Linked DNA regions of Homo sapiens: region 2 is reported to be linked to region 1. The links are microRNA targets in miRTarBase. Many come from high-throughput screens and were not tested one by one. Region 1 holds a microRNA gene; the other region holds the end of a gene's coding sequence.

Evidence for each region. The annotated mature microRNA hsa-miR-548m reads CAAAGGUAUUUGUGGUUUUUG and lies in region 1 at 1,821-1,841, opposite strand. An mRNA with a match to its seed (bases 2 to 7 or 8) in the 3' UTR can be bound and repressed. Matches are read on the target gene's strand: a 7mer-m8 pairs with bases 2 to 8, a 7mer-A1 pairs with bases 2 to 7 and ends in A, and an 8mer does both.
Region 2: miRTarBase lists PRUNE2 as a target of hsa-miR-548m. Seed matches in the 3' UTR shown: 7mer-m8 at 4,403-4,409, 8mer at 4,167-4,174, 7mer-A1 at 4,036-4,042 and 7mer-m8 at 3,727-3,733.

What each region holds. Positions count from the first base shown.
Region 1 is chrX:95,061,372-95,066,748 of GRCh38, forward strand. MIR548M (microRNA 548m) reads right to left here and starts at 1,855; the gene lies at 1,770-1,855.
Region 2 is chr9:76,610,078-76,615,077 of GRCh38, forward strand. It overlaps PRUNE2 (prune homolog 2 with BCH domain), which reads right to left. Exons shown (of 19, transcript NM_015225.3): 19 at 1,299-4,523. The coding sequence ends at 4,493. The region is part of intron 5 of LOC105376095 (a long non-coding RNA gene); the gene reads left to right. Among named protein-coding and RNA genes, the nearest start is that of PCA3, 150 kb to the right of the region's middle.

The DNA of each region.
Region 1 (5,377 bases):
AATGCTTAGAAAGAGTAGCTATTTAACTTCTCATTGAACAAAATTCAGTGAATTTCTTTGTATGTGGGGTGAATTCAAAATCTAAGTGAGGTAACTAAAGTATATCATACATATGAGGTGATGAATAAAGAAAAATAATTTTAAAGGAAGATATAAGTGCTGATGATAAATGAGAAGGATGGAAAGTAAACCAATATTTATTGTTATCACATATCACAATAAAAACTCCACTCTAAAACAGGATTATGGATGAAGGAATTCCCCACCTTATGAACTTATTTATATTAGAGCCACAGAAATAGCTCAAAACTATCCATTTTTATTTCATTGGTGGCTGAAATGATGCAAGGAATGTGGCAGCAAGCCCACCTGCGATTTCAATGACAATATTAGCAGGGGTACTCTAAATATCTTGGTGCAAAGAAACATTAACAACCTCTATGACATTCTGTTGGGTATAAAAATGGAAAGTGAGATTTAATGAATACAAGCTATTGATCAGAGGTCAGTGTCTACATTGATACTGTTAATAATAATATCAAAATAACAAAAAATAAACTAACCACTACCACCACTTACTGAGTTCCTACTATTTGCCAGGCACTTCTTTTTATATACATTATCTTGCAATAGCCTTATTTATCCCTGTTTTTAAGGCTGAATAAAGTACAACTCAAAGAGGTTAAGTACCATTCCCAGAGTCTTACATAAGTAACAGAACTGGAATATGAAAAGCCTCATGTTCTTTTAAGTGAATAAAATTTTCTCAAACTTGCATTTTTAAAATATTTTCAGGGACATATTCGTAGGTATCCCATGAAAAAAGACCCAATAAGCAAAGAGCTGTGGGGGAAAAAAGTCATACTATTGCATGAGTCTTTAAAAAAATTTCCAAGCATATTAGAAGAATAATGGTTCTCCATCTTCTTCATGATGTGCTTATTTCACATTGCATGCCTGTATCGAAACATCTCATGTACCCTATAAATATATACACCTGCTATGTACCCAAGAAAATTAAAAATAAAAAAATTAAAAAAGAGTAATTGTTCTAAGAAATCCCACAGTAAATAACTGACTTAAATAATAAAATACCAACCTGATTTGAACATATAATTCATTTTGCAAAAACATTTATTAGTATATTTGAAGCTGTGTTCTGAAAACCACTGATTCAGAAAATCTCATTAGTGAAATGAAACCAAAATATACACTGACCACATCATGATTTTATATCTGAATTGCAATACACAACTTTCAAAGTACTTTCAAAATAATTATCTCATTTAACGCTTATAGTAATCTAAGGCAGACCTGATGGTAATGGTATTATCCTCGCTTTCCCAATCAAATATTTTCAAGTTCATTGAGGCTATGAGTTTACCAAGATCACAGCTACTAAATGGTAAAGGTGAAAGAAGAACTGTGGTCTTCCAACTTCTAGTCCAGTGTTCTTTATGTTATACTATACTACATTGCTAAGGTACTCTTTGCGCTTAGTCTCAAAAATTAAGGTTAATTTACATGTTTGAATTTATACTAAGTAAAACATTGGTGATAAGATTTGAAATGTTGCTTAGTTGTCAAAAAAAGTCTTATAATTTGTTCAACCTAGAGATAAGAAAAAGCATCTTAAAGTCCCCAAATCACAAACTGTAAGACAAAATTTTATGCATTGACTATATCAAGATAAAATATTTCAGGGTAGTAAATTACTCCAGTCAACTTACTGATAGTAGATACTTGCCATGTCTATAATTCCGAGGGGCTAATATTAGGTTGGTGCAAAGGTATTTGTGGCTTTTGCATTACTTTAATGACAAAAACCACAAATACCTTTGCACCAACCTAATATCTAGAATAAACACCAACAAAAAAAACTCATATGAACCAACAAGAAAATAAAATCGTAAATTTAAGAAAATATAAGAATAAGCAAGTCAGAGAAGGGAAAATCTAATATCCAATAAGCATGAGAAAATATGTTCAAAATCACTAGTAATAAAAGGTATATTAAAACAATGCTTTGCCACTTTCCATTTATATTTGCAAAGATTAGAAAATTTTATAATGTTATATATTGACAAGGATGAGAAATCAGATTTCATTTATCATTGGTGGGCATGTAGACATGTGCAGCCATTCTGAAGAGTAGTGTGACAGCAACTAACCAAATTAAGTGCATGCATATGCTATGACCTATTAACCTGGGTTAATACAGACCTCTCCTGGGTCTGTAACCAAGAAGAATTCTCACATAGGATCATAGGAGAATATATATTTATTGTAGCATTGCTTGTGATTATAGAAAGTTGGAAGAAAACTAGATCTCTCTCTCTCTCTAAAAACACAGATGAGTAATACATGGTGAATGTCACTTGTGGTTTCTGCTCAGAGATATAGAAAGTTGAAAAGAACATTACACCTCCTATGCTTACAATAAGAAATGTCAGAAACACTGAAAATTAAGGACTTTTTGTGAACCCATCAGAGAACTAAAGTCAAAGGCCAATTTACCCAAAACCTTGGAGAGATTGGCTCCTGCAAGGAAAAATTAGACTCTAGCACTGGCTTATCTGGAGAAGATGTCAGTGAATGTTATACATTGAAGGAGACGCAGTTAAAAAGTTTTAACAAACTGCTAAAGACTAAGAACATGAGCTAGGATTAGAGTGTAAAGTCTTTAATGGTGTAAATACAGTGGGGTTAGCAGCGCGCTGAAAACTTTCTCATCAGGAACTTTACCAGGTGATCACAAGGAAGTGGGGAAAATCCCAAGAAAATTGGCTTCACAATACTGCCTAGGGGAAGGGGATAGGGGAAATTATATTCAGACCCATCTTTCTTAACGCACTTATGAAAAAAAAAAAGCTTTAATATTCAGTAGGGAGGAACAACAAAACTGTACCCTTAGGACTTCAAAACAAGGAATGTTATCAGGTATAAATAGAGATAGTAGATAATAATAAAAGAATCAATTCATCAAGAAGGCACATGCTTCCTAAATACATAAAATACATGAAGCAACACTCACAGAGCTGAAAAAACAAATAGCCACATCCACAATTAAAGTTGGAAACTTCAACAATTTTCTCAAAGGTATTGATAAATAAGTAGGCAGAAAAACTATATATATAAACTATATATAATATATAATGATATATATAAACTATATATATATACACACATATATATATATTCTGAGCAACACTATCATTGATATTTATGGAACAATCTACCTAACAATGGCAGAATGAATATACATTCTTCTGAAACGTACATGGGGCACAAACAAAGGTGGATGATATTCTGAACCATAAAGGAAAGCTTATAAATTAAAATAAATAGAAATTATACAAAGTGTGTTCTAGACTAGACAAAGTAAAAATCCATTACAGAAAGACAATAGGAAAATTCAAGAACATTTGGGAATTAAATGCCAAACTTCTAAATAATCCATATATCAAAAAGGAAGTCTTAAGGGAAATTAAAATATTTTGAACTGAATAAAAATTAAAATATAACATATCCAAATCTGTAGGATGCCACTAAAGTGGTGCTTAGAAGCAAATTGAATGCAAATAATAATTATAGAAAAAAAACAAAACAAAAATCTAAAATCAGTAGCCACCCCGAGTAATAGAGAAGAGGAGTAAATTAAACTCAAAGTGAACAGAAGAAAGTAAATAATACAAATTAAAGCATAAATCAATTGAAAATAACAAAACTAGGAAAAAATAATGAACAAAAAGATGTTTCTTTGAAAACATCAATAAAATTGTTAAAACTCTAACCAGAGTAACTAAAATAAAAAGAGAGAAGACACAATTACCAATATCAGGAATAAAAGAATGAACATCAATATTGACTCCACAGATGTGAAAATATAATAAGGAAATTATATTAACAACTTTATAATAATAAATTTAATACTGAAATGAAATGGACCAATTCCTCTAAATCTGCTGTGGTAAGCAGAATAATGACTCTTCAAAAAATGTTCATTTCCTAATACCCAGAACTCACGAATCTATAACTTTACTTGTCAAAGTCACCTTGAATGTGTGAGTAAAGTGAAACATCTTGAAATGGAAAACTTATTCTGGATTTTCTGGTTTAGTCCAACCCAATCATATAAATTCTTAACAGCAGAGAACATTTCCTGGATAAAGTCAGAATGAAAGATAAAGTAGGCAGAACAGTGTCCACACCCAAAGATGTACATATTCTAAACCTTGGAATTTATGAATATTTTACCTTACATAGCAGACAAAGTTTGCTGATGTGATAAAGTTAAGGATTTTGAAATGGGAGAATATTCTGAATTGTCCAATGTCCCCTATGTAATCGCAAGAGTCTTTATAAGAGAAAGACTGGAGGGTTAGCATTAGAGGAGGACAGGTAACAACGGAAAAAGGAGTCAGAGTAATACAGGACTATGTTCCAAATAATGCAGGTAATCTCTAAAAACTGAAAAAGGCAAGAAAATTAATTTCTCCTTAAAGCATTCAAAAGAAATGCCATTAATGCTGCTGAACTACTTTGGACATCCAAGTTTCAAAACTGTGAGATAATTAATTTGTATTGTTTGATGCCACTAAGTTTGTTAAGATTTGTTATAGCAGCAGTAGAAAACATACAAGATGTGATGATAGAAGACAGCCAGAAAGAGATTTGATATAGCTAAACTTGAAGATGGCTTCCTTGAAAACAAACAATGCAAGTGGCCATTAGAAGCTGGAAAAAGCAAAAACAACAAAAACAACAACAACAACAACAAAAACAGATTATCCCTTAGAGCCCCCCAAAATATAAAAATAAACACAGTCCTGACAACACCTTGATTTTAGCCCAATGAGTCACATGTCAGACTTCTGACTTTCAGAAGTGTAAGATCATACATTTGCATCAAGACACTAAGAATGTGATGATTTGTCACAGCAGCAGTAGAAAAGTAATATGGTCATAAACTACTAAAGCTCATCAATAATGGAAAACAACAAATAGTCCTAAATCTTAAAAAAAAAATTGTAATTGTACTTTAAAACCTTCCAATAAAGAAAATTCTAAACTCAATGATTTCACTGACAAATTCTACCAAACATTTGAGGAAGAAATACTACCAATTCTACAAAATTTATTCTAGAAAATAGAAGAGGAAGAAACACATTTGAACTCATTTCTTCATGGCATTATTATTCTTTTACCAAAATCACATAAAGACATTGAAAAAGGAAAATATTAATATCCTTCATGATAATGGATACAGAAATTCTCAACAAAATATTAGCTATTAAAATTCAGAAACATATATAAAAGGATAGTATAACTTGAAAAAAAAGGATTTTTTCAGGAATGCAGGACTAGTCCAAAATTG
Region 2 (5,000 bases), not on the chromosome of region 1:
AAAGCCCACAGCTGTGTGAGGATTGATGTGTCAAAAGGCACCAGCTCTGAATTAAAAGTTCCATGACTGCACAGGATGATGCAACCCAGGGCGGGCTTCTGGCACGCTGCAGCACATGGACACAGCCAGCACAGGGACACTGCACACACAAGAGAAGCTGTAGAAGGGAATGGCTCCTCAGGGATCCACAGTGCCCCAACACAGCTTTTCTGTAATCTATGACTGAAAGTCTTGGCTTCCACGACTGAAGTTGTCTTCATTTTATTTATTTTTAACTTCAGCTTATAAAAGGCCCCTTATGATTTTGATTTTTAATTAGGCTCCCAACTTTATCACTGATCTCCATGCCCTACCCTTACCCAAATGAGTGTGTTAAGTCCTTAAATACACATGGATTTTGGATAATACGTAGTTTTGTGTGTGTATGTTTAACAGTTATGTAAGTGGCACTGTGCTATAAACATCGAGTTTGTTCTTTTTCCGCTCTACCCTATGATTTAAGTGTTGCTTTATGAACATATAGTATGTTGCTTCTCACAGCTGTGGTATACTAAAAGGTGTATTCAGCACGATTTACCCAGCCCTTTCCCTAGTGCTGGACACCTAGCCCACCTCCAGTTTCCACCACCATAGTTAGGTACGAGAGCAGAATGAATGTAGCAGTACGTCTTGTAGTTGAATGTCCTTCCTTTGCCTGCAATTACTTGTCAGCCTTTTCTTCTGTTTCTTCCCTTTCTTGGGTAGAGGACAATATCTACCAGAACTCATTTTTAGATCATGAGAACATGCAACGTCTCACTTCTTGTAGAGCAATTTCTCCTTTGGCTAGTCCAACAACTTTCTCAGAGGTACACATGTGTTTATTAAGTTAAAAAAATAGCACAGTGGTAATTCTCAACTCTGGTTTTGCCTGAAGGTTGTGAAAATGGGGAAAAAACCCCAACTAAAAATAAAATGATATTTAAACATTTTAATTTAAAAATAAATATATGCCATAAAAAGGCAAGGGGAAGAGAGAGGAAAAGACAAAAATCAAGTAACCATGAAACATGGAGATGTTTCCAAAGTAAGAAATCGCTTATCCACAGAGTAAACAACAGTTTGAAAGCTCGGTGTATTGAACTCTGAGATAGGAAAGGCAAAAATGAAGAGAGAATAAAGTTTGGGTGTACAGAAAAACCAAAATGTATACAGTCCTCCAGTACCAAGTGCCAAGCTAGATTGATGTTGAGATAAAACTGCTGCAAAGTGAAGCCAGAGAAAAATTCTTGCTGACTCAAAGAAAGAAAACCATCACATGCAGAATCAATTTTTATTTCTGAATTATACAGTGAGGCTATATAGATATATTGTGTCATTAAAGACTTTTATATTATTAATCTACATTATGGAGAATTTATTTACCAAAACGAAGTCTAACAGACACTTTATTCTGAGCAATCCAATGCATGATAGAAAAACCTTTAGATATATAAAAGATTAATTTGTGCACATCTAAATGTTTCTAAGGGAACAAACTACTGAGGCATTGTGATAAGACGAGAGTTGCAAACATAGTACCATAACTGAATATTTAAAATTACATCTTAACAAAGGCTAGGAGTAGTGACTTCCTCACACACCTCAGAGAATGTCTTAGAGAGTAACCCCATAGAACATTGTATGGCTTCAACAGAAACTTCAGGATTTTCTTCCACACTGAGCTACTGCCCTCAAACAAACTTTCTCACTCCTTGACACTATCTTCTGTGCAAATTTCTGTTCTTTCTCTTAATCAAGGAGCTTTGAGAAACAATGCTTTTGCCCCAATGACCCCTTGGTTCCCTTAACTACAGATCTATAGGAGAAATGCAAAGCAGTTCCCAGAAGTCAGAACCAAAGCAAGAATGTTCAGAGTGCAAGAGCTAGAGAGCTAAATCATGTGAATGTTTACCTCTGTCTACCTATCTGCTTAGGGATTATTTTTCTAGGATTCATCTAGGATTCTATTTACTTGGGGTGAATGTACATGGTAGCTTTTCCCTAGCACATGCAATTAAATTAATTTGTCTTTTAAGATAATAAAATAGCAGATACCTAAATATCAGAGTGGTTATGCAGCCTACAGAACAGCTGAAACAAAATCATTGGGACAAATGCCCATAATTTTCATGTAGGAAGATGAGGCTTCAAACAGCATACCACCTGAGTAGTTTTCCATAGATGAGCTGGACAAGTTAAAAATATATATATAAATGGTGAGATTGTTGCTGTGTCTGTTTGGCTATAACAAGAGCCCTCTATGAACAGCTCTATGCCCTCAGGTTTGCACCACTACACTGAACACTGGATTTTTCATTACTTCCTGTGACAGGGTGACCATGGAATTCATTTTACAAAATGGGATGCTACTGAGTGAAAGTAGCAAATAGGTGAACAAACAGGAATATTGGGTAACTGTATTTACGTCAACACTGTGTTCTGGGAGAGGTGTAATTTGGGCTTTCAAAAGTGGAGGTGGGCTGTGGGAGGGGGTGGGCTGTAGGGTTTTTCTGTCCAACAAGCCAGATGTTATGAAGGAGGAGATCCAACAGAACATACAATTCAACAAGATACTCGCTTGAAAGGATCAAGAGGAGAAAAGAGAAAACGATGGAGGCTTATGGAGGAAAGAGGGCTGAACTGCGTGTGTGTGGGCACGTGCGGAAGGACGGGAGGAGACAGAGGTGAAGCAATGAGGTCAGAGAAACTCAATCACCTGTGCAAAGATGTCGACTTTAAAGTAGTTACAAGCTCCTTCTACCCAGGACTCCAAATATCCTGGACAGCTCTCCCCAATGAATTTTCCACCATGAGACTAGGGTGGAACCGCTCTCACCCCTTCATTTTTATTTCTGCCAGCTTCTTTGTAATAGGAGACACTGGAGACTAAGAATGGTTCCCAGAGTGAGGCACGGACTTCAGCCAACACCTGTATATACTAAAGAAGTGCTTCTAAGAAGGCTTCATTTTGGCAATTGCAACCTAAGCAGTGATTTTGTGGCTAGGACTCCTCATGTTTTTCAGCAAGCCATTTCTTTTATTTCACTGTCTGTGGATGTCAAAACATTGATTTTTGACAAAAATAAATTAGTTTGCAGCCTCATTTGTCCGTTCTGTTAGAGAAACTATCTAAATACAAATTGGGGTGGAGTAGGAAAGGATGCGTTTGCTAGAGCAGGGGTCAGCAAACTTTTTCTGTAAACATAGTCAATGTTTTAGGCATTGTGGGACATACGGTCTGCTGAACTGCTCAGCTCTGCGGCTGTAGTGTGAAAGTAGCTGTAGACAGTACAAAAACAAGTTTGTGTGGCTGTGTTTCAGTACCACTTTATTTATCGGCACTAACATTTGAATAATTTTCATGTGTCATGAAATATTCAAAAAAAATTTTTCCAACCCAAAATGTAAAAACCATTCTTAGCTTGCAGTGGTGAGCGAGACTTAGCTGTGGTTTGCCACCCCACCTCACTAGAGGCCTACAGACTTGAAATCTTGTTGGCATTTTAAAGGGCATATGAAGACTATAAAGGAAATATTTTGTACATGAAAGTAATACTCATATTTAATTTTAAGCCTATGATCAGATTACGGTGTTTTAAAGCAGATCACTTTTTATAATGCATGCGAGAGAGGAATTCATGAATAACTGAATGCTACCAAATGATTTTTGAGTAGGCCACCTTGCACTTGAGTTCTTGGCACTTAAAAGGTAACCTCTGGAGCTGAGTTTATGGCCTGAAACTCAGAGAGCTACCAAACATGCAACACGGATTCTTAAATTTCACAATGTGGTGGTCACCAACATTCATCAGGAAAATGATGTTAAAAGACCAATTTACATAAAATATAATGCCCAATTTGACAACTAAAATAAAGTTGACGTGGATTAGAAAGCCCGGCTTCCCTTTGAGAAGTTAAAGGAGATTCTGGTAAACAAGAACAAAACGGGCACTTAGCTGATGATGGTTTTACACCTTGTGTGGTTTGTGGCTGTCCTAGTCAGGCTTAGGATTTTAAAGGTGGAGTCAAACAGGGGAAACTTTCCTGGGGAGAGTTGAGACCTGTGTACTTTAAACCTAATGCAATCACCAAAAGGAAATCCAGCTAATCTATGGAAACAAATCCACTCATACTTAACAGTGGATTAAAGGTATCTTACTGGTAAACACCAGTCTAAGGGACAAAGTATCACTACACCGTGTTAATGAAGTATTGAAATGGAAGGTCCTACTTTCTTGCTAAGGCTCAACTAAAATCTTTGAGGCACATAATTGGCAAAATAGGAAAGTACACACAATTTCATAAAATATCTTAAGAGTAAACAAACTTTCTATTTTTCCCCTTAGAAATTTAGAATGGCACCAGGTAGTGCAAAGTGGAAAAAGGTAACATCAGCCCTGTCTCTTTCAGGTAGATATGTTTCAACAGAACCATGAACCAGAAAAGCATCCTCTTCTTCCAGCATGGCCAACTAAGGCTTTTCTTTCAGCTTCAAGTCAATACTGCAAAGAAAAGAAAAAGAGAGAGAAACATGAGAAACCAAATGAGAGACATTTAGTAATGATTTGGGTAGCACTGTGTTTGCTTTTTTCCTCAAAGGACATACTGAAAATATTTAAATCATGCAAGTTTCTTATAATAGAAAAATCTGGTAAAACCCAATCCTCCTCTTGTCAGGCTTTTCTCCAACATATGAAATCTGTTTAGTTCTACAAAATCGTTTCTGGAAGCATTTTACACCTTTTCAAAATGATCCAGGGAGGTAAAAAACTCATGTAAAGGCTCATTCCCAAAGTCAATTAAGATAAGGAGCATTAGTGTATTCCAGAAATCATGCCATTTTATTTAATAAGTGACCTTTCCTTGTGAAGCAAACAAATGTTCTGCCTCAAGTAAGTAATGTCTGACAAGCACTAAATAGTAAGAAATGGTAAACAACAAAACAACACCAAACATTTTCTAGAAGCCAAAGGAATTGA